7 linked regions of the Homo sapiens genome follow. The protein of the gene in region 7 purifies or fractionates together with the protein of the main gene of each other region. This does not show direct contact. Each region holds a gene or a part of one and is shown on either strand. Other genes may lie near its edges. The genes, in order: OSTM1, STEAP3, CLCN7, NCEH1, TGS1, FAM204A and FAM177A1.

Region 1 (3,500 bases), on a different chromosome or scaffold from region 7:
AGATTCTCATTACAAAATACTTTAAGATAGGCAGGATAGATATTATCTCCATTTTACAATGAGAGAACTGAGGTTTTCATGATTTGTAAGTAGAAGAACTTACTTAAGAGCAGAAATCCAGGTCCACTAACTCCTTTACATCATGAATTTAGATAAATATCAATAATTAGTGCTCTAAAAACTTGGAACTGCACATTATTCCTTTGTACAAGGCAGCATTTTAATTTTAAATATTATATATAAAATACCTGAAGGTTATGTTCAAAGCAGGTCAGGGTGTGATTAAATAGATTAAGGAAATATACTGTGCTGTTTGATAATTCTTCACTGTTGTTTGTTAAACAATCTGTCAAAAAAATTCAAAAAGTATATTAATATAACTCAAGGAACAATTCTATGTTGTCATTTATATCTTAAGCTATCAGCTTCGTTTCACACTACAGTAATTCTTTATTCAAACAAGCATGAATTTTCCAAATATATGAAGCTTACTCCTTTTATTTTCCAAAAGTTAAAAAAGTCATAACCATTTTCATGAACATGTTAAAATAATCACATACTCTCTTTTCATAAAAATATACCAAATAAAATTCAAATGGACTTTTGATGGCACAAGGTCATAATCACGGAATATCAGCTATCAAATGCTGCCTTAACAGTGCTATTTAGGCATAAGACTGTTTACCCTGCATTAATTTTACCGAAACTCATATGCCTTATCATTTTTTGTGTCAAATTTCATAGTTCTCTGCATCTTCCAACTTCACTAATGAGTCATTTATTGTACCTAATGGGGTAACTTTTAAAATTCGCTCTTTCTAATCCATCACGAGTTGGGAGCCCAGAGAAACAAACTGGTGAGAATTTTGCCTAAAATACTGACGTGGGGGCTTCAAGTAAAGTCTAGAAACAAAATTGTTTTACATTTTTAAAAATCCTACATAAATGGTATTTCTCTGCAACTGGCTATTCTTGCTTAGAGTTAGCTCAAGTTCACTCATCCCTTTTATTTTCTATGTATGTGTATATCACAATTTATGTATCCATTTTCCCTTCTTCAGGGAATAATCTATTCTTCTTTTTTTTTTTAAGAAACGGGGTCTTGCTCGGTTGCCCAGGCTGGAGTGCAGTGGCACAATTTGCCAGCTCATTGCAGACTTGAACTCCTGGGCGCAAGTGATGTTCCCACCTCAACCTTCCAAAGTGCTGGGATTACTTAAAGGCATGAGCCACTGCGCTCAGCCAGGGAACCTAGTCTTTATCCTCAGGTAAACCTTTGTCTTTACCTCTCCTTGTGTTCTCAGCCTGCTATCTCCAATCGAGGTTCAACTGCCTGGTTCCAGATCTTGGAACTTGTGGTCAGTCGTTTCCATCTGACTCTCCTAGAATCCTTGCCCTCTTTATCTTCCACATATTCACAGCCATTTTCATCCCTGGACAGTCCCCATCTACTTTCTGTACTCTCAGTCTGGTTACAGAATACTACTACAGAAATTCTAAAATGATAATGAAGGGACTCAATTCAAATTCATGTGTTCTGATCTCGGGGCAACAAAATGATCCTTGTAGATGCCCTCCTAATTGCTCTGCAAGGGATGTTCCACATATTTTCTCATCTCTAGTCCCAGCCCTACTCTTGTTCCCCTTAATTTCAACAGATGGCTTTGTATTATGCCCACCTTATTTAGAAATTCAGGGCCATCAGATAGGATCTCTCTCAACTGGAAGTGGAAAGACAACATGCAAAGCTATTGCAATTACCCAGGAGAAAGGCAGCAAGGCAAGTAGAATTTGTGGAGAAAAGAGAGACGGACTAGGTAGACACTAGGATATGACACACTAAGGGACATCCATGTACTCTGACAGACAACAATTACTACAACGAAAGTTAACACTTACTAAATACTTGCTATGTTCTAAGAACTATGCTTACACTGCACTTTAAACACATTTGCCCATTTAATTCTTGCAGTGATTCCATGAGGGAAAAATTATCATTATCTCCATTTTATAAATAAGGAACAGAGATAGGTTTAGATAAATTAAGGAAGTTGCCCAAGGACATAAAACTGGTAAGTAAAAAGCTAGACTCTGTACTCAGTCTGATTCTTGAGCCTGCACTCTCAAACACTGCAAAATAAACATATTTATATCTACATTCTAAACCATTAAAAGTTCAAGACTCGGAATCTACAAATACATGCCACTGCCTACTCCCTCCACTACCCATAGATATCTTACACCATACAGGGATTCAGGCAGTCCCCACCAACTGATCAGAGTTAGCAACTGAGATGAAACCTAAACCTGGTAGACAGGGGCAGACAGCACAGTAAAGCTCCTTTGTGCAAATCAGAAAAAGATATTCCCTCTGGGTAGATAAATTACAAAAGGTCATTCCTGCCTCCAGAAGCTAAGCTGGAATTCAGCCCCATTCACCTCCTTGTACAGCCCCCTTGTGCAGGGCTCCTTCTGCACCCATTGTACACAGGATCCTCTTGGTAAACCTATTTCAGGAGTTGTCCCCTCTCTGAACTCACATACTCTACATTCTCTGAAGCTTTATCTTCTCCAGAACATGAATCTCATTCTAACTTCTCACCCTTATTTAAAAAATCTGAGGGATCACTACAAATTAGGAAACTAAGCCACAGAAATAGGTGATATGCTGATGATCATACCACAAGTTAATAAGCCATTGATATAAAAATAGGCCAGCATGGTGGTTCACACCTGTAATCCCAGCATTTTGGGAGGCAGGTGGATTGCCTGAGTCCAGGAGTTCGAGACCAGCCTGGGCAACATGGTGAAAACCTGTCTCTACAAATAATACAAAATTAGCCAGGCATGGTGGCGTGCATCTGTGGTCCCAGCGGCTTGGGAGGCTGAGAGGGGAGAATTGCTTCAGCTTGGGGAGGTCGAGGCTGCAATAAGCTGTGATTGCGCCACTGCATTCCAACCTGCATGAAAGAGTAAGAACTTGTCTCATTGCCCCTCTTAATGCTAGTTTAATATCATCATGAAGTAGCCCGCAATCCTTTTAGGGATGAGGCAGAGTTGATATAAATAAAAACAAACAATTACATAGTTTTTGTACATGTTTACAAAAACAATTATATAGTTTTTGTAGTTGATGTGTTGCAGGGAAGTTAAGGGAACACAATTTCATTCACAACAGTTGTACATCTGTGTTATAATGAGCTATGTCGTGACAACTGACATAACAATATAGGGATAAAAGGGGTCCACATACTGCCAGCAAAAGTAGTATAAAGTGCATTATCATGAGAGAGCAATAGCAAATTTCTTCTATGCAAGATACCTAATTAAAACAAATAATTTCTTTTGCAAAAGCAATTTATAAAGAAAGCTTCTCTGAAGAACAAAAGAACTTAATTTCTTTTATTAATAATTACATTAATGCATTACCATCAAAACTTTTTCAATGATCATTAGATGGTGGTAACATAAAGCATAAAGCAGTTCATTTATATAATGGG
Region 2 (3,500 bases), on a different chromosome or scaffold from region 7:
TGTCTCCAGGGCAAAGCATGGACGGGGGCTGAAGAAGACACAGGCATGTTTCTGCTGGCTGGGGATGGCTTTTCAGTGGACCTTGGAGGCCACACCGGCAGCCCAAAGGAGGCTGGAGGTTTGGAAGCTTTTGCATTGTTGAAGTGAATTATGTGCAAGCCCATTCTTAGGGATAAGTGTATTCTATTGTTTTCAACTTGTTTGGAACCTAGCGATCTTGGAATAGGGCACATCTAAGTATCCCGGGCATCTTTATCTCAAGCCCACATGCAGAACCTGTTTTTCAGATCCCTGAGCATCTGATAAACAGGTTCTGGGCAGGTTTCCCCTATCATCACCAAACACCAAGCCAAGGCCTCATTGTTCTCTGACTGCTGTGGCCCCCTGGGTCTCCTCTCTTCTACTGGAGTGAAAGCCCCTGTGGGCAGGGCTAGATTCCTGAATCTCCGCGGAGTCTAACACAGGCCTGTAGGCAGGGACTGACTTCCACTACCCCTCCTTCCAGTCCCTGCCCACTCCACCCCCCACCACAGCCAATGGCATTCTTTCCATCTCCAATCTTGACAACCTCCTGGCCCATCCCAATCCCCCTTCCTTAAAGATCCAGCCCAAGGCCTTGGGCACTTAAGGCACCTGCCATCTCCCCCAACGCCCACCCCTGACAATCTCTCCCGGCTTTGAATTCAGACAGGCAGCTGTGTTAGTTGGGGGACCTAGCTGGACAGAGATGTGTGTGAATTCCGGTCCAGCCATGTGCTAGCTGTGTGACGTTGGGTAGGTTGCTTTCCCTCTCTGTCCTGATGATTAAACAGTGAATATGAAACCCCTAAACACATGTCTTCCTTAGGACTGTTCTTGTGTGCACCTTTCCTTGCTCTGCTGTGGCCACTCACTGCACGTGGCCCCTCTGCCACTCTGGGTGCTCTATGGTCAGCTGAGGGAGGGACCTAAGTGCCCTCCACCCCTGCACATCCTCACAGCCCCTCACATCGCTCTCTGCTTAGGTGAACTAATAATACAAAAATTAGCTGGGTGTGGTGGAGCACACCTGTAATCCCAGCTGCTCGGGAGGCTGAGGCACGAGAATTGCTTGAAATTGGGAGGCAGAGGTTGCAGTGAGCCGAGATGGCACCACTGTACTCCAGCCTAGGTGGACACCTGTTGAGCCAGCAGGTGTCAGGCAGTGCTTTCAAATATTTGTGAACACCAGAATCGCCCGGGCAGTTTAAGTGGGTGGGTTTCTGGGCAGCCCCAGGCCCAGAGTCTCTACTTCAGTGTGTTGGTGTGGGGTGGATAGGACTCTATTTTCCTGTCAAAGCTGCTGGGGGGTCTCCAGATCTCTTTGGAGAAGCTGCACTGTGAGGAAACCGCACCTGAGGAAAGCAAACCTTTCTGTTGCTTTTGAGAGTACAGGAGCTGGAGAGTACGCGTTCCTGGAGGGCTCCAGGTCAGCTGTGACAGCTGCCCCCTGGGGTTCTCACTGAGACCTTGGCTCTACCCTGAGCTCCCTCAGCCTTGAGACTTCTCCTCCTCTCAGCACCCCCCACAAGCCATGCCAGATGTTAAAGGTCATGGGAGGGTAAGCGGCAGCCCCAATGGAACTCACACCAGCACAGGTGACACAAGGTTTCCAGCCTCCAGCCTTCAGATCTGGGAACACCAGGAGGGCAGGGCTTTCCCAGATGCCTGCCCCTCCACCCACCCATCACCCTGATTTCTGGCTGCTGGGCCCAGCACTGTCTTGCTTCCTTCCCTTCCAGTTCCAGGCACCACCTTCTTTCTGGCCAGTCCAGAGACATCTCCAAGGGCCAGAGGGTCATCTCCAGAGGGCCTGGTGTCACTTCCCGCAGCTGCTCTGGCCTTTCACCCAGGTTGGGGCGATTTGATGGACAGTGGTGGGTCCCCTCAAACTCCACTGCATTCAGCGTGCTACTGACTCATGTGCAGGCCTGGGCAGTCACCCAGAAAGCCCCCCTGGATGCCAGCAAGCCCACTGTGGCAATGGGCAGGCCAGACCTCACCTGGAGGGCCCAGCTCACAGCCACTGTATCCTCTAGCTGTGCACCCAGAGTTCACCTTCAGAGAGACACTTGCCCTGACTGGGGGTATACTGTTACTCTCTCAAGCCCACCAGGAAAATCACGCACCACTCCCCACAGCCTACTGGCCACCCCACCAGTCGGATGCTTATAGAAATGGGAAGCAGCCGGCTGTGGTGACTCACACCTGTAATCCCAGCACTTTGGGAGGCCGAGGCAGGTGGATCACCTGAGGTCAGGAGTTCAAAACCAGCCTGGCCAACATGGCAAAACCCCATCTCTACTAATAATACAAAAATTAGCTGGGTGTGGTGGAGCACACCTGTAATCCCAGCTGCTCAGGAGGCTGAAGCAGGAGAATTGCTTGAAATCGGGAGGCAGAGGTTGCAGTGAGCCAAGATGGCACCACTGCACTCCAACCTAGGTGACAGAGCGAGATTCTGTCTCCAAAAAATAAATAAATAAATAAATAAATAAATAAATACAAGAAATGGGAAGCTTGTTCCCTCACAGACCCCAGCATGCTGGCTTTGGGAGCCCTGCTGTCTACACATGAACCAAGACAGCTGACACCACAAAATAAAGCTTAGTGGGCCCATTCACCGACCCCAAATCTCTTTATATGTACCGAAGTCGGCTTTATAATCTTGGGGCAGTATTTTTTTAACGTGTTTAATAACAAGGCTTAAACATGTGATCTTTGCTGAACTCCCACCTGGCTCTCATTAAGCAGAAGGCAGAGATGGAGTAAGTCACAGCCTGATTGCGGAACAATCAGTGCTCACTTGTTGCCCACGCTGCCCGGTAACTGTGGGCATGCAGAAGACAGACTGACTGGGAAGAGTTGAGTATCGAACAATTCTCCGGTGACAGTGTTCTTACGGTGCTGAAGCAATGAACGCCTGGCCCATTCAGTGCAGGGCTCACGAGACCAGGCCACACCTGAAGAGGAACACACTCTGCCCCTGGGTTGAAGTGACAACGCAAGAGTTTGTGATCCACAAGCAGTCGCCCATCAGCCCTGATGGCAGGCACAGTGGTTGATCCCTCCAGCTCAGTGGGTGAGGGGAGCGGGTGTCTTTGGTTTTGCATCCTTGCTCACTCACATGAGCTATAGGTCCTGAGCCTTACTGCCACCGTGTCTCCTCACTCAGATTCGCAAGTACGCAGAGGGCACGGGTGTTTGTGGGGTGGTTGATGACAACAACACTCATCCTGCCAGAAGTGGGACTCAGCTGGTCTTAGAGTGCCTGGCTCAAAGTTAGTGCTCGGTAAGTGTTTGTTGAATGAATAACCGATGAGGCAGAATTTGGACAGGAGAATGTGGCAGTTAGTTAGTGGCTAGGAGTCTCAGGTTAGGGGTGGAAAAAAAGAGGTTGGGGTCCATATGGAGTTGGAAAGTCACATGGTTGGGAGAATAACATTATCGACCTCCTAAGAGTCTCCAGGTACAAATGAGCT
Region 3 (3,500 bases), on a different chromosome or scaffold from region 7:
GCTGTCACTGCTGTCCTGACCGGCTTCCTGCGCCCTGCACTCCTCCGTCTGAGAGCACTTCTGCCCAGCTGCCTCTGCTCACTTGGCGTCAGGGACCATGTCCCCCCAAGGAAATCTTCCCTGAACCCCGGCCCTGGGGCCCCACTATCTCCCTGCCGCTCGGCCCGTGCCCATCCCTGTCACCCTCTGCTAAGATGCAGCTAGCTCTGCGGGAGGACGGGGAACACCCCCAACTCACCGGGTCCAAAAGTTCATCATCCAGCTCCACGCTGCTCATATGTCCGACTCGGAAAAGCGCAGAACGTGGTGACTAAAAGCAGAAGAGAAATCATGAGGGCGCTCAGGCGTCGCACGCTCTGCTCCGTGGATTCTCACTCCCGCCGCCGCACCCTGGCCTCGCCTGACCCTGCCCGGGAGCTCAGGAATGGGCTAGGCCAGGCCTGCCTGCTGGGTGGGGGCAGCAGGGCTGGGACGGGCCTCCCTGGGCCCTGGAAGCAGAACTGATCCGGCTGCCCCTCGGCCTGTCAGCGACACGTCCAGCCCGAGTCCAGGGCGCAAGCTCCCTGCTCTAGACTGAAAGCGAGGCACCTGCCACCCACCAGGAAAGAAGGGCTGGACAACACGCCGCCCCCAATGCAGTGCCCGCCACAGCACCCTGGGCCATCCTGCCCAACCCTGCTCCCGAGGCCCTGCTCAGCCACCTGCCACCTCCACAGAGTCACCTCCACTGCAGCCTCTCTGGGTCTTGAGACACAAACGGCTCCACAGTGTTCACGCTGCCCTCCCCACAGGACGCCCAGCTGTCAGGCAGAGCTGGGTGGGGTCTCAGCCACCTAAGGCTTTGCGGCCGCCCCAGCTCAGGGCAGGGGCAGGGCAGCGGGCCCTGGGTGGCGTGGTGCAGATGTGACTTACGGAGCTCCCACCCCAGTCTCCGGCTCCTTACTAGAGCCAAGGCGCTGAGGCCAGGCTAGGAGGAGCCAAGACCTCAGCCTCCTTTCCCCAAAGAGATCCTTTGGAGACGACTCCAATTTCCACTATCTCCTGAATCTTTAGCAACATCTGGGGACATGAAGGGAAGAAGGGCTGCCTTCCAGGTGGAGGGACCGCATGCGCAGGGCGCCCGCCATCTGCATCAGAGAGCCCGTGCGCCTGTCAGGAAAGTGTTGGCGGAGGAGTCCAGCGGCTGGTACCGGCCGTGGGAAGACCAACGAGGCTGCCGCCCGCCTTCCCTGGGAGCAGCCCTCCCGGCCCCCAACGCCGTCCCCTCCTCATCCCCCCATCTCTCCCTCCACCTTCCTCAGGCTCGGCCTCCCGCACCAGGTTTCAGCAGGGCCTGGAAGTGCTTCTTGGTGATAGAACGGCAGGTGATGGCGCCAGGAGCCCACAGGGCCGAGGTGGGGACGGGGAGACGTGCAGGAACGGCCTGCACTGGGGCCCAGTTTTCCCTCAACCTCCACCTATCCACGGGGATCACGATTACCACACACAGGCAAGGACACAGAAGCAGAGAAGGAAGGTTTGGGATCTGAGGTCACTGCGAGCCAGGGGTGGGGGTCCTGCTTTCTCTGGAGTGCTCACCCCTGAAGGAGACGGGCTCCCCAAACCGCCATCCCAGAAACTGCCTTCAGAACCAGACCTTCCCGGCGGGGTACAGTGGCTCATGCCTGTAATCCCAGCACTTTCAGAGGCTGAGGCGGGCAAATCACTTGAGGCCAGGAGTTCGAGACCAGCTGGGCCAACATGGCGAAACCCCATCTCTACTAAAAATACAAAAAGTAGGCGGGCTACTTGGGAGGCTAAGGCGGGAGAATCGCTTGAAGCCGGGAGGTGGAGTCTGCAGTGAGCTGAGATCGCACCACTGCACTCCAGCCTAGGTAACAGCAAGACTCTGTCTCAAAAAAAAAAAAAAAAAAAAAAAAAAAAAAAGAACCTGACCTTCCAGCCCACTGCCCTCCAGGGACCCCTTCCCCAACCATCGTCCTGTTACCAGCCACCGTCGCCCTTGCTGTACACCCCCCGTGTTGATGACCCGGTAAGTGGCCCTGGCAGGGGAAGGAACCTGGGCACGTGCCACTGGCCCTTGGCAGACACCAGTCAGAGCCTCCTCCTCTCCCCAGGCAAAGAGCACTCTCAGGCCATCCCCATCAAAAGCCAGGAGCAGAGGCCAGACAGACAGACAGACAGACTCGCAGGTGTCTGCCGTGGCATCTCCACGCCCAGGGGAGAGTGTGGGAGGGGCTAGAGTGCACAGGTCCTGCTGGACACAACCCTGAGTCACAGGGCGCCTGCCCCTCCTCTTCCCCCAGCCTTGCCACATGCCAGTGGCTCTCCCTGAGCCCTCAGTCACAGGCGAAACTCACAGCTTGAGTCTCCTGCCACACGGGCTGACGGTGGGAGGAGGAAGGTGCCACGGTCCAGGCATGATGGAAGCAGTGGCCTGGCCAGCTGCCCACTCCCTCTTGCTCACACTCACATCAAAGCCCCTGGACTCCAGGTCTCACCACCAGAAAACAGCCCTGGGACCAGCGCTGGGCCTCTGACCCCCACCTCCCAGGTGGACAGGTGCCCCGATGCCCCAAACAGAGACCACGGAACCCAAAAGACCCATTTCACCATGAGGAAGGACCCCACGTCCAAACAGGCACCCTGTGGGACACACCCTGCCCAGAGGGCCACCCTCTCCATCACTCAAGATGTCAGCACTTCTCTCTAACGCCACTCAAGGCCTGCCGTGCTTCTCAGGCTATTCCTTGCTGGAAATAACGGATCATTCTGGCCGGACGTGGTGGCTCACGCCTGTAATCCCAGCACTTTGGGAGGCTCAGGCAGGAGGATCGCTTGAGCCCAGGAGTTCAAAGCCAACCTGGACAACGTAGTGAGACCCTGTCTCTACAAAAAATCAAAATCAGCAAGGCATGGTGGCGTGTACCTGTGGCCCAAACTACTCAGGAGGCTGAGGCAAGAGGATCGCTTGAGCCTGGGAAGTCGAGGCTACAGTGAGCTATGGTTGCACCACTGCGCTCCAGCCTGGGCAACACGGCAAGACCCTATCTCTAAAATTAAAAAAAAAAACCCAAACAAAACGAAAACAGCCACAGTCACATGTCCTGGGCGCCAGGCCTGGGAGGCCTTGAGGAGGGCCACCGTCTACACCACGACAGCACTGTCCCACAGCAGCAGGCAGAGCCGCACATGCATTCAGGCCAAGGTGAAGGCTGCCGGTGCAGTATGTGACCAGCGGGCCACCCCCACCGCCGCCGCCTTGGCAGATCCGAGAGGGGTGAGGGGTGAGGGGTTGCCCCCCAGCAGGGCATCAGCTGCCCCTGCCCGGAGTGAAAGGATGGGGCTCCGGCGCCTTGCCTTCCCAGCATCTCTTTCCTTAACTCTGCCAGGACTTTGAGAAGGTGGCTTTCGTAATGGAAGAACACGACGTTTACTTCAAGTTCAGCAATGCATTCCGTGCGGTTACTTTCTTTTTTAAATGCAAGCTCTTATAAATT
Region 4 (3,500 bases), on a different chromosome or scaffold from region 7:
TATTATCATCAAAATTATTATAATTATTATTCACATTCTTCTTAGTTGCCCAGAAAAGTGGCTTATACAGAACTGACAGAGACAACCCAAAATATTAATATTACTACTATTACTACTAACCACACCATTAAAATTTGTTGAACACGTATTTCTGTTCCCAAGGCACAAGTCATAGAACCTGACTCTAAGAGAGCAACTTTTTCAACTCTCAGCTGTAGAAGAGATTCTCTTAAAATCCTTACTACTTTTTAGATTTAAAAAGTTATATGTTGCAGGTAACTGATTGCATACTTCTCTAGGTTTTTAGTTAATCCTTTTTTCAGTTTTCAAAACTAACGGTGAAAAGGTAATTTGAAGTGTTATAAAGCTAGTTCAATAAATTTTGTTACATCAGAAATCATTTTTCTGATTATGCTGAGTGTGACTTTGGGCATATCTCTTTGCCAACTTGAGACCTTTATTTTTTACTTTATCACTTGTAAAACAAAGTAACCAGACTGTTATCTAGAATTCCTTTATAAGAAAAATTTTCTATGACTAGCATTAATTACTTACTCAATGGAAACAATGACAGCATTCAATTCCTCAGCCATTGCTGTACACAGCTCATCATAATACCTGATTTCTAAAAGACACAAAGGGAACAATCATTACAAAACAGGTCATTTAATACTGTCCACTCATAAATTCTGCTAAGTGTGAATTGTTTTTAGGCTTGGAGCTAATACTAAAAACAAATAATAAAAAGCAAATGTGAACAAATAATAGAGTTACATGTACACATGAAAAATTAAATCTGATTTCTAATAACATGCAACTACTATATAACAGGAAATGCATAGTTTAGTTTTGAATATATTACTATCTAAATATTTATTTCATAACGGACTATATGAAATGCACCAAATTAATCCTGATTTTATAGCTCTTCAAATGTATACATCTTTCTGGAAAAAAAATCACAGCAAATAAGCAGTCTCTTCCTTAGAATCATGCAATTTTAGGCTGGGAGTGGTGGCTCATGCCTGTAATCTCAGCACTTCAGGAGGCTAAGGAAGGAGATCATTTGAGGTCAGAAGTTTGAGACCAGCCTGAGCAACATAGCCAGATGCTGCCTCTATAAAAAAATTTTTTTTAATTAGCCAGGCATAGTGGTGCACGCCTGCAGTCCCAGTTGCTTGGGAGGCTGAGGAAGGGGGATTACTTGAGCCCAAGAGTTTGAGGTTACAATGAGCTGTGATAGAGCCACTGTACTCTGGCCTGGGTGACAGAGTGAGATCTTATGTCTAAAAATAATAATTTTAACAATTTTGCTCTTTTAACACTTCATTTGCTGCAGTTCAGTAAAGTGATCAATTTGAAGAATATGGTATTTTCTTTAAATGAACACGTAAAAAACTAGAATTTTAGGAAGTCTTAGCATTTCTTAGAGGATTCCAAAGGTCTGCAGTAACAGAACCAATTTAATATGTAAGAATTTAATTCTTAGTTACTCTCAGTAAATTAAGATCTATATTGTGCCAACTGAGAGCCAAACATTTCCTTATTTATAGGGTTTCCAAGGCAGTCTTAGAATCGGAAGCTTAAGAATTACATAGACACCTGTTACCTCCACCTGCTCAAGTTCTTCCTCAGGCAGAAGTGATCAGTCAAAATTATGCAGAAAAGGCCAGGCTGACTCTTGTAATCCATCCCATTCCTGGCACCCATACTTGCTGTCCTCCAGTACAATGTTTTTCCTGGCAAGCGTCCAATGCTACAGATTCAATCTCTTTTAAGGCAGAAACTCCTTCTTATTCATTTTTGTATCCCTACACCCGAGCACACCTTAGACTGACCAATGGTCCAGACTTGCCCACAACTGTTTGAGCTTTTGCACTGAAAGACCTGCAGCCCAGCAAACCCCTTGGTCTCGGGCAAACCTACATACTCATGAACAGCTATTGAAAATGTGAAAAAAAATCACTGAATAAAAGAATAAACAACGGATATGGAATTAAATAAGATTACTAGAAAAAGTCAAACCTTTTGACCTTTGTTGCTTTTAAAAAAAAATCACATAATGATAAAATAAAAAAAACAAGTTGCCATTGCTTTTAAACTAAGGGGATGCCAAAAGCTCTGGACTGAAGATGAGGAAGTAGCTCCATGATCATTTATTAGCAGAGACAAGACCCCGAATTCCGCCTTGGGAGGTTCTCTTCTGGGCGGCTCTGTTTGGCTGCCTGCCATTTTGAATGTGTTCTACTCATAAAAATCATCCAAATCTAAAGAAAATATTCTTGAACTTTGCAAGATTGTTTCCTTTGAATGGTTGCATATATTTTTACCTTTGCTTTCATAAGCAGATAAAATGTTAACATGTGTATTAAGGAATACCTGGTCTATTTCATAGAAATATATCTTCAAAACACAAGTTGGCAAAAGAAGCACAGATAATTCCCCATATGCGTGCCTGGTGAAACTTCACCTTGTTTTGGTGCAGAAAGCTGTATCAGCACTGCACAATAAGTTAGTCTGTGATTTAGATCATAGGAAATATTTTTACAACAGTCTACCTGAATTGACAAACAAACTAACAAGCAAAAAACCTTTACAAAGGATAACCATTTAATTTATCACCCAAACCAGGACCCTTTTGAGAGTGAAAAGGGGGCACTAGTCATAATTTTGCTGGGACAACAGGGGTAACTGGGACCATCCAGGGGAACCTAGATAAATGGTCCCCTTCTTTCCCACTAAGAAAGCCAAACTCAGTTACGCATCTCCCCCAAGGCCAACCACAACAACAAACCATCTGAAGGTGACCAGGACGCACTTGCACTTGCCAAGGCCCAGCCTCCTCCGTGGATATAAACGACGCTGCGTTTCAGTGGCTCTTCGGGCTTCGGAGGGCCTTCAAACACTCTGACTTCCACACCATCAAAGTCTGTGTCGGTCACCTTCACTTGGGCAGAAGACCACGCGCTTTTTTTGCCAAAAGAAACAATGATAAAATTCAGTGCCAGCAGGTGATGGCTCAGTCCCAGGTAGTGGATCAGGTTACTCTGCAGGGCGAGGGAGGAAATAAAGAGGGAGGGCGCACGTCAACTTGGCATCACCAGAGCTGCCCTCACCAACTGAGTGTCTGAATTCCTACAAGCAGCTGCCACTGGACTGGAGGGCTCATTGAGCCCTTTTAATACAAAAACCAATTGTATTTACCTTTTGCTTTTGGACAAAATATTTTCATACATGAGATCTCCTCAGGTATCATCAGTCCCATTTTATTGAGAAGGCTTAAACAATAACTATGCTTGTTCATTTCATTGGATAAGTGGTAGTTCTGGGACTCAAACCTAAGATTAGGTTTGAATTCCAGGATTCAGTACCTTTTTTTTCTAAATAAGTATATCACAGTTCCAATAACATACTAGGAGTAAAGAAATAATACTTTATTTCAATGCAAATAAAAGAGGAAAATGTTCTATTTACTTTAATTTCTTTAAATTCCTTTGTAA
Region 5 (3,500 bases), on a different chromosome or scaffold from region 7:
TTTTGGAGACAGTGTCTTGCTCTGTTGCCCAGGCTGGAGTGCAACGGCATGATCTTGGCTCATTGCAACTTCCGCCTCCTGGGTTCAAGCAATTCTCATGCTTCAGCCTCCTGAGTAGTTGGGACTACAGGCACACGCTACCATGCCCAGCCAATTTTTGTATTTTTAGGAGAGACAGAGTTTTGCCATGTTAGCCAGGCTGGTCTTGAACTCCTGGCCTCAAGTGATTTGCCTGCCTCAGCCTCCCAAAGTGCTGGGATTACAGGCATGAGCCACCATGCCTGGCCAAAACTGCATGCTTTTAAAGGGTCGGAAAAAGCAAGGAACTGGATGGCAAAAGGCCATAGGGTTGCAGAAGTACAGGAGGAATAGCAGAGCCCTCATCATTGTCAGAAATGAGGTCCTGTGTCCACTCTAGAGTAAAGAGAATACTGACCTCCTTCTTTCCTAGTAGAAAAAATTTACATTTTTCAGAAAGACAATTATCTGAACAAAATGATGTGCTGGGCTGGGCGTGGTGGATCACTTGAGCACAGGAGTTTGAGAGCAGCCTGGGCAACATGGCAAAACCCTGTCTCTACAAAACATTAGCCAAGCATGGTAGTGCTTGCTTGTAATCCCAGCTACTTAGGAGGCGGAGGCATAAGGATTGCTTTAGCCTGGGAGGTGGAGGTTGCTGAGCCAAGATTGTGCCACTGTACTCCAGCGTGGGTGACAGAGTGAGACCCTGTCTAAAAAAAATAAAAAAAAAAAGAAAAGAAAAAATAAAAAGAAAAGAAAAGAAAAATAAATAAATAAAAATAATGTGCGTTAATTTTCCTGTTGTCTCCCCTTACCAAAACTTTAAATGGCTCTTCAATACTGGAAAAATAAGAATATACACTTTTATAGAATTGCAAGTGTTTTCCAGCCTTATTTCTCCTTACAAATTCCTACGTACTTTTTCCAATACACAGCATTTTGCAAATTGTTTTAAAAGGGTCAGAGAACCCCTGAAATTCCATCATAGATCAAGAACTTCTGATTTTGATAGTTAATAAAAACCAATATTTAGGTAACCCCAATATGAAAACGAGCATCAGTCTGCAAGACTGAGTTAAGTAAGCTGTTGCAGATCACAGCAGGAAAGCTGGAGAAAGAATTCAAAATTTGCGAAGTTAATTCATTAAATTGTATCCTTCTGCACTAGATATTTCTTCATCAGGTTTTCTGTTTAATAATTTATCAATTGCTTTTGCTATCTATCCTAACGTGCTACAAATACAGATTAAACCCAAGTCTGAAATTTTAAAAATACACACACACACACACACACCCCCCCAAATTGAAGGGCATCCTATAAAATAAATGGCCATTGATCCTTTGAAAAATGTCAGTCATGAAAGACAAAAAAGGCTAAGGAAACATTCCACATTAAAGGCAACTAAAGAACTTGAAAAATAAACGCAATGATACATGATCCTATACTGGAAGGAAAAAAAAAACGTGATAAAGGACAAGATTAGGACAATTAATGAAATTAGAGTATAAACTGTAGATTAAAATATTGGAACAATGTTAAGTTGATAATTCACTATTTTAAACAAAAATATACTTGTCCTTAGCAAATATACACTAAAGTATTAAGAAGTATGAGCATGATGTGTGTTAAGTACTGATCAGAAAAAGATACACACACATACATATGGAGAGAGAATGAGAACGTAAACGGGGCAAAATGTTGAAAATAGCTGAATCTGGGTAAAGGGGATATGAACATTCCCTGTATTATTCTTATAACTTTCTTTTTAAGTTTGAAGTGGTTTCAAAATAAAGCTAAAAAATACATATATACTTTACCTCTGTCCAACTTAATCCCATCATCAAAACGGGAGAAGAGCCTGTACCTCTGGGCCCAGTATTTTGCCAGCTCAGGAACAGCAGCTATTTCAGGAGGCAGACCATTCACCTTTTTGTTCTTCTTCTTGTTCTTCTTCTTTTTCACTTCAGCTAAAATAAAATACAAAGAATATAGATGCTCACTAAGAAAAAAATTAGTATCACAGGTGAGTTTATCTAAAAATGAAGCCACATCAAATAATTACAAGCAGAACATGTATATAATGACACGCCCAGAGAAACAGGAGAGCCTGATGGAAACGCCACTGGCTTCAATCACCACCAGCATTTTGCTACTTATTGGCTTTGTAAGCTTGGGAAAGTAACCGAGGGTCTTTAAGCTCCATTCATTCATTCATTTATTTATTTATTTAGAGACGAAGTCTGGCTCTGTCACCCATGCTGGAGTGCAGTGGCACGATCTTGGCTCACTGCAAGCTCCGCCTCCCGGGTTCACACCATTCTCCTGCCTCAGCCTCCCGAGTAGCTGGGACTACAGGCGCCCGTCACCACGCCCGGCTAATTTTTTTGTATTTTAGTAGAGACGGGGTTTCACCGTGTTAGTCAGGATGGTCTTGATCTCCCGAGCTTGTGATCCACCCGCCTTGGCCTCCCAAAGTGCTGGGATTACAGGCATGAGCCACTGTGCCTGGCCTAAACTCCAATTATTAATTCCTATAAAAGGAATGAGTGGGCTGAGCGAGGTGGCTCACACCTGTAATCCCAGCACTTTGGGAGGCTGAGGCAGGTCAGAAGTTCAAGACAAGCCTGACCAACATGGTGAAATCCCATCTCTACTAAAAATGCAAAAATCAGCTAGGCGTGGTGGTAGGTGCCTGTAATCCCAGCTACTTGGGAGGCTGAGACAGAAGAATGGCGTGAACCCGGGAGGCGGAGCTTGCAGTGAGCTGAGATTGCACCACTGCACTCCAGCCTGGGCAACAGAGCAAGACTCTGTCTCAAAAAAAAAAAAAAAAAAAAAAAAGAACGATGGGGCTGGGCGCAGTGGTTCATGCCTATAATCCCAGCACTTTGGGAGCCTGAGGCAGGTGGATCACTGAGGTCAGGAGTTCAAGATCAGCCTGACCAACATGGTGAAACCCCATCTCTACTAAAAAAAAATACAAAAATTAGCTGGGCACGGTGGCAGGTGCCTCTAATCCCAGCTACTCGGGAGGCTCAGGCAGAAGAATCGCTTGAACCTGGGAGGCGGAGGTTGCAGTGAGCTGAGAATGCGCCATTGCACTCCAGCCTGGGCAACAGAGCAAGACTCTGTCTAAAAAATAAAGAATGAATGAATGAGTTAGTGAGTGGTGTTTTACTAACTTAATTCACAGCAGTGACAGGACATATGTAGAAATACTGCTATAGACATAAAAGTTATTACTTCTGTTAGCCAAGACACTGCTTTATGTGGTGAATTATAGAAATCTAAACATTTCCTTTCTATCAAGGACTAGATTAGGCTCTAGCTGTCAGCCACATTGAAGTCACATGGCATCTGAGAAACTGAAACAAGGGTCACTAGCTCCATTCCACGGAAAAGGATCTCATTCATTCAGAGAGTGATTTTTTCCTTAAATAATTTTTATCAGTTTGGTTATTTGGTTTCAGTCTTCAGC
Region 6 (3,500 bases), on a different chromosome or scaffold from region 7:
AAGTCCACCTGCAAGTCAGAATAGTGAGTGTGGCCAGTAATTTACCCAGATAACCCATGATGCTCTCTACGTAACGAAACACTATGGAGTAGTTAAAGTCTGAGGTGAAGGAGGGAAGGATCAAGGCACTAAAAAAAAAGACTATGGTGGAGATTTTTTCCTAGAAAGGAAAAAAAGGAATTACAAAGCAACAACAATAATAACAAAACACATGCCAATATGAGCTCTTTAATCTATATTGACATTAATTCTCAACTGGGGGAATTTGCCCACACCCCACCTCCAGGAGTATAATTCAGAATCTTCTTGTGGCCTTCTGTACTTGGCAAAAGAATACCCAATATATCTATTAGTTTTATACTATAGAAAAAAAGAAAAAAGACCCAAAATTCTTTAGGGCTGAGGGGGATGTGCTGAGCAAACAGTAAGAAAGCATTTTACCAAGGGTTAAGAAAAGGTTCAGGGATGTGGCCTTAGAATACACAGTTGCCCTCAGAGTTCAAATGAGTTAAAGATGCAAACGGAAAAGAAAGCTAGCATTTTAATCATACCTGAAACAAACCTCTCTGATCCAGGTAAAATCTAAGGTTCAGTATCAATCATGGATTATTTCTAGCAAGTTTTAGACCAGAATGATTTAAAAACATTAAAGACAAAATAAAACCTAGCATTTCAAAATAAATGACAGAATAAAAGAGAAGAAAATGGACAAAAAGGAAAACCTCAGATGAAATATTTTAATACTGAACTTATTAATGATCATAAAAAGAATACAAATTTATTCTAGAAAATTTGAAAATACAGAAAATGTGTAACCCTTTTGACTCACCTCTCGAGTAGCTAGCTGGTTGCTGAGTTCCTCAGCCTTCTCAATATTCCACTCCTCCACAGCCTGGTCTATCCTCTTTTCAAGGCCTGACTAGAAAAAAAAGAAACCTAAAATTAAGGGCTGGAAGGAAAGCAAACATTTGCTAGCCAAGACCATGTCACAGAATTATACTGAATGTGTTACACAAGTAGACCATTAATTCTCACAATAACACCAGAAGGTAGCTGCTACCATTCCCATTAGTACCAGAAGGCTGAGACAGTAAATGGCTTACCTGAGGTCATGTAACTTCTTGAACTAATAAAAATAAGACGCAAATCCAGATTTTTGTGAATCAAAGCCTATGCTTTCCCTTAATAACAACAATAATGTTAATGATAACAATAGCTAAAAATTATGGAGTGTTTATTACGTGGCAGATTCTGGGCTTAATACTGTAAAAAAGCTCATTTAATTCTTATAACAACTCCATGAATAATAATGCTATCCTGTTTTAAAGATGAGGAAACAGAGCCCAAGACTCCTGAACTTGGCCAAAGCCAGCGTCTGTAAGTAGTAAAGCCATCACATGAATTCAGGTTTGCTCAGAGCCTGCATTCTCAACCACAAGTTTCTTCTGTCCCTTTTCTTACTGCCCATTCCTATAGCTCAGGACTTTCAGTCAATAGCCTCCACAGCCTTTGACTATGACCATTAGGCTGAATATTAAACAGCAGAGGAAAATTATACATAAGAATGATTTTATTTTCTTATGTATATGTTTTTATTTACTAAAGATACTTCAGGAAATCATAATTAATATTTTCATGGGATTACCAAACAGACTAGGGTACAATGCGTTACACATTTATAAAAAGATGCTTAGACTTAAATAACTGGAGTTCTAGTTTGTGAAAATAGTTGCTACAGATAATAAAAAATTTAAAAGATGGTCTAATATATGCTTCTTAGAAGCAAATTTTATCCCAACAATGGCTTATCTAGTCCTTTAACTTCCACATTCACAGTTAATACTCTACCTCTTACAGACTTCTCCTCCTTATTTCATAACAGAAGTCCTAAGAATGTCTCTTCCATCAGTCTATTGTTTGAACATGCCAATCAACTGAGAGAATTTTGTTCCTGTGTAGCCTTTGTTGAGATGAGATGTAAAAAATAACAACATAATTTGCCTAAAAAGGTTACAGAAATAAAGACCAGTGACGCTGTCACTGATGTCTGTTGCTAAGAGAAGACGATTCCTTCTCACAGACCCCACCTAAGTACTTAATACCTGCAAGGCCAACAGACTTTTCTGCTTGCTTTCCTGTGTAGCTGGAGACCATTCAACAGCGCTTCATAGTCTTTGACCTGAGGCCATACGGATCTAATGCTCACCACTCATTCTTGTCCTGTGATCATCTACCAGTCTCCAGAAACATCCCTTTCTTCCATTTCTGCAGAACTCTTCTCCTGATGGTCCAAACAACACCCTGGGACCTCTAACTTGATGCACTTCAGAAATCTATACTCTAGGCCAGTGCTGCTTCAGTCATGGCCTGTGTACCAGGTCTGGTCTGTACACAGTGCCAATCCATGAACTGTTTATTTTGGTCCACGTAAAGATAAGGAGCTTGTGCCAGAATACAAATCAGCTTCATGACTAAACACAGTTTTGTACTGGCCGGCATGTTGACACACACCTTTAGTCCCAGAGCTACTAGGGATGCTGAGACAAGAGGATTGTTTGAGCCCAGGAGTTTGAGGCTGAAGTGGGCTATAATCACACCACTGCGGTTTAACCTGGGTGACAGAGCAAGACCCTGTCTCTTAAAAACAACAACAAAACAGTTTTGTCCAGATGGCTTTTGCTGGGGGTAGTCGGGGACAAGAATTTCTCCATAAGGAAAGTAGTACACTGAGTTACATTCAGGCACACACTCCTTATCTCTTTGTATATCAATGCACTTGGAGTAAGACTGCTGTATGTCATGTTATAGACATTGCCTGAAAGTTCCGCCTCCACAACTTCATAATCTAGAATTCTACTCCCTGATACAATTCTTCCACTCACCCCAAGTCTTTCTACCTAATTCATCTGCTTTGCCTTTACTGGAACCTCATTCCCTGGCACGGTCCTTCAGTCCCTTCTTAGATACTCCTTCTCCCTCTCTAACTTGCAACCCACAATTACCATTATCAACTAAACTCTAAGCCAGTGGTTCTCAAAGTTTAAGTGCTGGACTAGCAGTATCAACATTACCTGGAAACTTGCTGGAAATGCAAATTCTGTGGAAAAACTCTAGGCTGGCGGCCCAGCAATCCATATGATTCTGATGCATGCTGAAATATATGTCAACTGTTTTTTTTTTTTTTTTGGTGACACGGTCTTACTCTGTCGCCAGGCTGGAGTGCAGTGGCGCAATCTCAGCTCACTGCAACCTCCACCTCCTGGGTTCAAGCGATTCCCCTGCCTCAGCCTCCCAAGTAGCTGGGACTACAGGCGTGTGCCACCATGCCCAGCTAATTTTTTGTATTTTAGTATAGACATGGTTTCACCATGCTGGCCAGGATGGTCTCAATCTCCTGACCTCGTGATCTGCCTGCCTCGGCCTCCCAAAGTGCTGGGATTACAGGCATGAGCCACCACACCTGGCCATGTCCTCATTCTTAAAACTACCCACTATCTCCT
Region 7 (3,500 bases):
TTTTTTTTCTATAGGGACAGTGTCTGGCTATGTTGCCCAGGTTGGTCTCCAACTACTGGCCTTAAGCAATCCTCCCACTTCAGCCTCCCAAAGTTTTAGGATTACAGGCATACGTCACTGTGCCTGAGCTGGAATTCTAATACAAATTTTACTCCTATATATTTACACTATATATATCTATATATATAGTGGGAGATGGTGAAGAGCTTCTTTTCATTGTCCTCTTGCCTCAAGTTTAAACTCCTAATAAAACTGCCTGAAGTTGGGCCAGGCGCGGGCTCATACCTGTAATCCCAGCATTTTGGGAGGCCGAGGCAGGCGGATCACAAGGTCAGGAGATCGAGACCACGGTGAAACCCTGTCTCTACTAAAAATATAAAAAATTAGCTGGGCGCAGCAGCGGGTGCCTGTAGTCCCAACTACTCGGGAGGCTGAGGCAGAAGAATGGCATGAACCTGGAAGGCGCGCCACTGCACTCCAGTCTGGGCAACAGAGCAAGACTCCATCTCGGAAAAAAAAAAAGAAAACTGCCTGAAGTTTAAACTTCCAGATTTCAAAAAGGTACAGTACATACAATTGTGAAGAAAAATCTGGCAACAGTGGTTACCCCATGGGTAGAAACTAAGATGGGGGAGAAGCAGAAGGCAAGGGAGTAGTCAAAGGAGGGCTTTTATTCTTTTTGCATATACAGGACTACAGTAATGTCATGATTACAGTCTATGTTCGTAGAATTCTCTAGGATAGTCCAGAGTACAAACATTTTGTTCTCTATAAAGATTCTTGTGGTTATAAGCAAACATAATTTAAACCCATGACTGCTGTTCAACCACTGGAAAAGCTCTTTGAATTGCTATTGCAAAAAAAGGATTATACTGATAAAAACAGTGAACTGCCCAGTTATGCAAGTATAAGCTACTTTGTTTTTATACATTGTTTCATCTTAATCTTCTAAGGTCCTTCTTAGAAAACAGATATGATTCTTCTCTGCCTTTTACCTCCCAAAGGTAAGTTTAGTCATTAGCCAGGATTTGAACTGCAGATCATGAAAATTTGGTAACAGGCCAGCCGTGGTGGCTCATACCTGTAATCCTAGCACTTTGGGAGGCTGAGGCAGGAGGATCACATGAGGTGAGGAGTTCGAGACCAGGCTGGCCAACATGGCAAAACCCCAACTTTACTAAAAATACAAAAATCAGCTAGGCATGGTGGTACACGTATGTAATTTCAGCTACTTGGGAGGCTGAGGCATGAGAATCACTTGAACCCAGGAGGTGGATGTTGCAGTGAGCCGAGATCGCACCACTGCACTCAAGCCTGGGCAACAGAGCCAGACTGTCTCAAAAAAATAAAAATAAGGCTGGGTGCTGTGGCTCAGGCCTATAATGGCAGCAATTTGGGGGGCCAAGGCAAGATAACCTGATGTCAGGAGTTGGAGACCAGCCCGGCCAACATGGTGAAACCCTGTCTCCACTAAAAAAACAAAAATTAGCTGGGCGTGGTGGCACGCACCTGTAGTCCCAGCTACTCGGGAAGCTGAGGAATGAGAATCACTTAAACCCGGGAGGTGGCGGTTGCAGTGAGCTGAGATCGTGCCACTGCACTCCAGTCTGGGTCACACAGCGAGACTCCATCTCAAAAAATAAAAATAATAAACTATCTTAAAAAATAAAATTTGGTAACATAGGCTACCTATGTATTAACATGAAAAAAAGTCACAATTCTTTCTAGCCTGTCCTGAGGGTTCAAATAAATCCCAGCCCTTAACAAGGAAAGATCAGGTCATTTATTGTGTCCATGAAAAAAATAAACAAGTAGTTAACCCAGGACACTTTTCTTCTACCTACCCCCAAGCCCCACCAATCCCCAGGCACTGACAGCCATCCCTACCCAGTCTCATGTTTACCCTTGAGATAAAATTTGGCTATGGCTGTCCTGACATCAACGTTTCCTTTTGGACCATGACTCAGCTTTTTGGATCCCTTAATTTCCTATGCAAAGGAAAGACAGATGAGCTAAGTTAGATCTCCAGTCATCCTACTAACTGGATGGATCTAATGTCAATGCAACAGCTCCAGTCAGTGAATAGAGAGCTCAGATCCTTCACAGTATACCACCATGCCCCACCCTATCCCACCCCCAAGACAGTAGAGGCTTCTCACTGCTACCTCTAGCAATCTCTCATTGGCTTAATTTTTTCCTTCTATGACACAGGCAAAGGAAGGAATGTCAGTGCTCAAAAAGCTTCAGATTTTAGAGTATTTCAGATGAGGGATAATGATTCCAACCTCTATTTGGGAGGCGGGGTGGGGGGCAATGAAGGAAGCACTAACAGGTAAAACCAACCAGAAAATCATTTGATACAAAATTCCCAATAATTATATTTTTAAAATATTTTTCTTTTTTTATTTTTCAAACATCAACTTGAACCAGAAATCCAATAATTACAAATAAAATTTACACTGTGGCTGGGCATGGTGGCTCATGCTTGTAACCCCAGCACTTTGGGAGACTGAGGCGGGCAGACAACTTGAGGTCAAGGGTGTGAGACCACCCTGGCTAACATGGTGAAATCCCACCTCTACTAAAAAAATACAAAAATTAGCCAGGCGCGGTGGAGCGTGCCTATAATCCCAGCTACACAGGAGGCTGAGGCAGGAGAATTGCTTGAACCCGGGAGGTGGAGGTTGCAGCGAGCCGAGATCGCGCCATGAACTTCAGCCTGGGCAACAGAGTGAGATTCTGTCTCAAAAAACAAAAAAAGTTACACTGTGAATTTTCCAAATGCTTCATTTTATAAATCTGCAAGTAAGAAAAATTTCACTGCCAATTATGCAAATTCCATAACGAACCCCAAAGATCTGAAAGATAGTTTCATAACACCAGGAAATTATGAGGTACCATGTCAATTAACATTTTACTCCATTTTATAGTTAACCAAACTATAAATGTGCTTATCTTTATTCTCAGGATCTGTTTTTTTCTTTTTTGAAAAGGAGTCTTGCTCTGTCATCCAGGCTGGAATGCAGTGGTGCGATCTTGGCTCACTGCAACCTCTACCTCCTGGGTTTCAGCGATTCTCCTGCCTCAGCCTCCCGAGTAGCTGGGACTACAGGCGTGAGCCATAATGCCCAGCTAATTTTTCTATTTTTAGTAGAGATGAGGGTTTCATCACGTTGGCCAGGCTGGTCTCGAACTCCTGACCTCAAGTGATCCACTGGCCTCAGCCTTCCAAAGTGCTGGGATTATAGGTGTGAGCCACTCTGCCCAGCTCAGGATCTGGTTTTAATGGCAATTTTTTGTATATACTCCCATGGCACCCAGACTTCTTTAAAACACATACTAGACTTAGAATTTATTCTTTGTCATCTTCCCCAACTAGGCTATTAGCAACATGGGGGTAGGTACTGCTATATCTTTCAGCCTAGAGTTCCTGGCACATAGTAAGTGCTTGGTAACAGAGGTACCAAATAAATCAATCACTGAGTGGTACTGAAATTTTA

Evidence for each region.
Region 1: the proteins of FAM177A1 (region 7) and OSTM1 purify together in Homo sapiens (affinity purification with mass spectrometry; 2 studies listed by BioGRID and IntAct, with this or other methods). This does not show direct contact.
Region 2: the proteins of FAM177A1 (region 7) and STEAP3 purify together in Homo sapiens (affinity purification with mass spectrometry; 3 studies listed by BioGRID and IntAct, with this or other methods). This does not show direct contact.
Region 3: the proteins of FAM177A1 (region 7) and CLCN7 purify together in Homo sapiens (affinity purification with mass spectrometry; 3 studies listed by BioGRID and IntAct, with this or other methods). This does not show direct contact.
Region 4: the proteins of FAM177A1 (region 7) and NCEH1 purify together in Homo sapiens (affinity purification with mass spectrometry; 2 studies listed by BioGRID and IntAct, with this or other methods). This does not show direct contact.
Region 5: the proteins of FAM177A1 (region 7) and TGS1 purify together in Homo sapiens (affinity purification with mass spectrometry; 3 studies listed by BioGRID and IntAct, with this or other methods). This does not show direct contact.
Region 6: the proteins of FAM177A1 (region 7) and FAM204A purify together in Homo sapiens (affinity purification with mass spectrometry; 3 studies listed by BioGRID and IntAct, with this or other methods). This does not show direct contact.

The regions. Positions count from the first base shown.
Region 1 is NC_000006.12:108,054,242-108,057,741, forward strand, and holds part of OSTM1 (osteopetrosis-associated transmembrane protein 1 precursor), read right to left. Parts: intron 347-3,500; coding exon 249-346; intron 1-248. UniProt on the Homo sapiens protein: Required for osteoclast and melanocyte maturation and function.
Region 2 is NC_000002.12:119,226,834-119,230,333, reverse strand, and holds part of STEAP3 (metalloreductase STEAP3), read right to left. Parts: intron 1-3,500.
Region 3 is NC_000016.10:1,465,029-1,468,528, forward strand, and holds part of CLCN7 (H(+)/Cl(-) exchange transporter 7), read right to left. Parts: intron 311-3,500; coding exon 239-310; intron 1-238. UniProt on the Homo sapiens protein: Slowly voltage-gated channel mediating the exchange of chloride ions against protons. Functions as antiporter and contributes to the acidification of the lysosome lumen and may be involved in maintaining lysosomal pH.
Region 4 is NC_000003.12:172,645,068-172,648,567, forward strand, and holds part of NCEH1 (neutral cholesterol ester hydrolase 1), read right to left. Parts: intron 3,048-3,500; coding exon 2,819-3,047; coding exon of another isoform or gene 2,795-2,818; intron 626-2,794; coding exon 556-625; intron 1-555.
Region 5 is NC_000008.11:55,800,946-55,804,445, reverse strand, and holds part of TGS1 (trimethylguanosine synthase), read right to left. Parts: intron 1,990-3,500; coding exon 1,840-1,989; intron 1-1,839. UniProt on the Homo sapiens protein: Catalyzes the 2 serial methylation steps for the conversion of the 7-monomethylguanosine (m(7)G) caps of snRNAs and snoRNAs to a 2,2,7-trimethylguanosine (m(2,2,7)G) cap structure.
Region 6 is NC_000010.11:118,325,325-118,328,824, forward strand, and holds part of FAM204A (protein FAM204A), read right to left. Parts: intron 920-3,500; coding exon 830-919; intron 1-829.
Region 7 is NC_000014.9:35,049,272-35,052,771, reverse strand, and holds part of FAM177A1 (protein FAM177A1 isoform 1 precursor), read right to left. Parts: intron 1-3,500.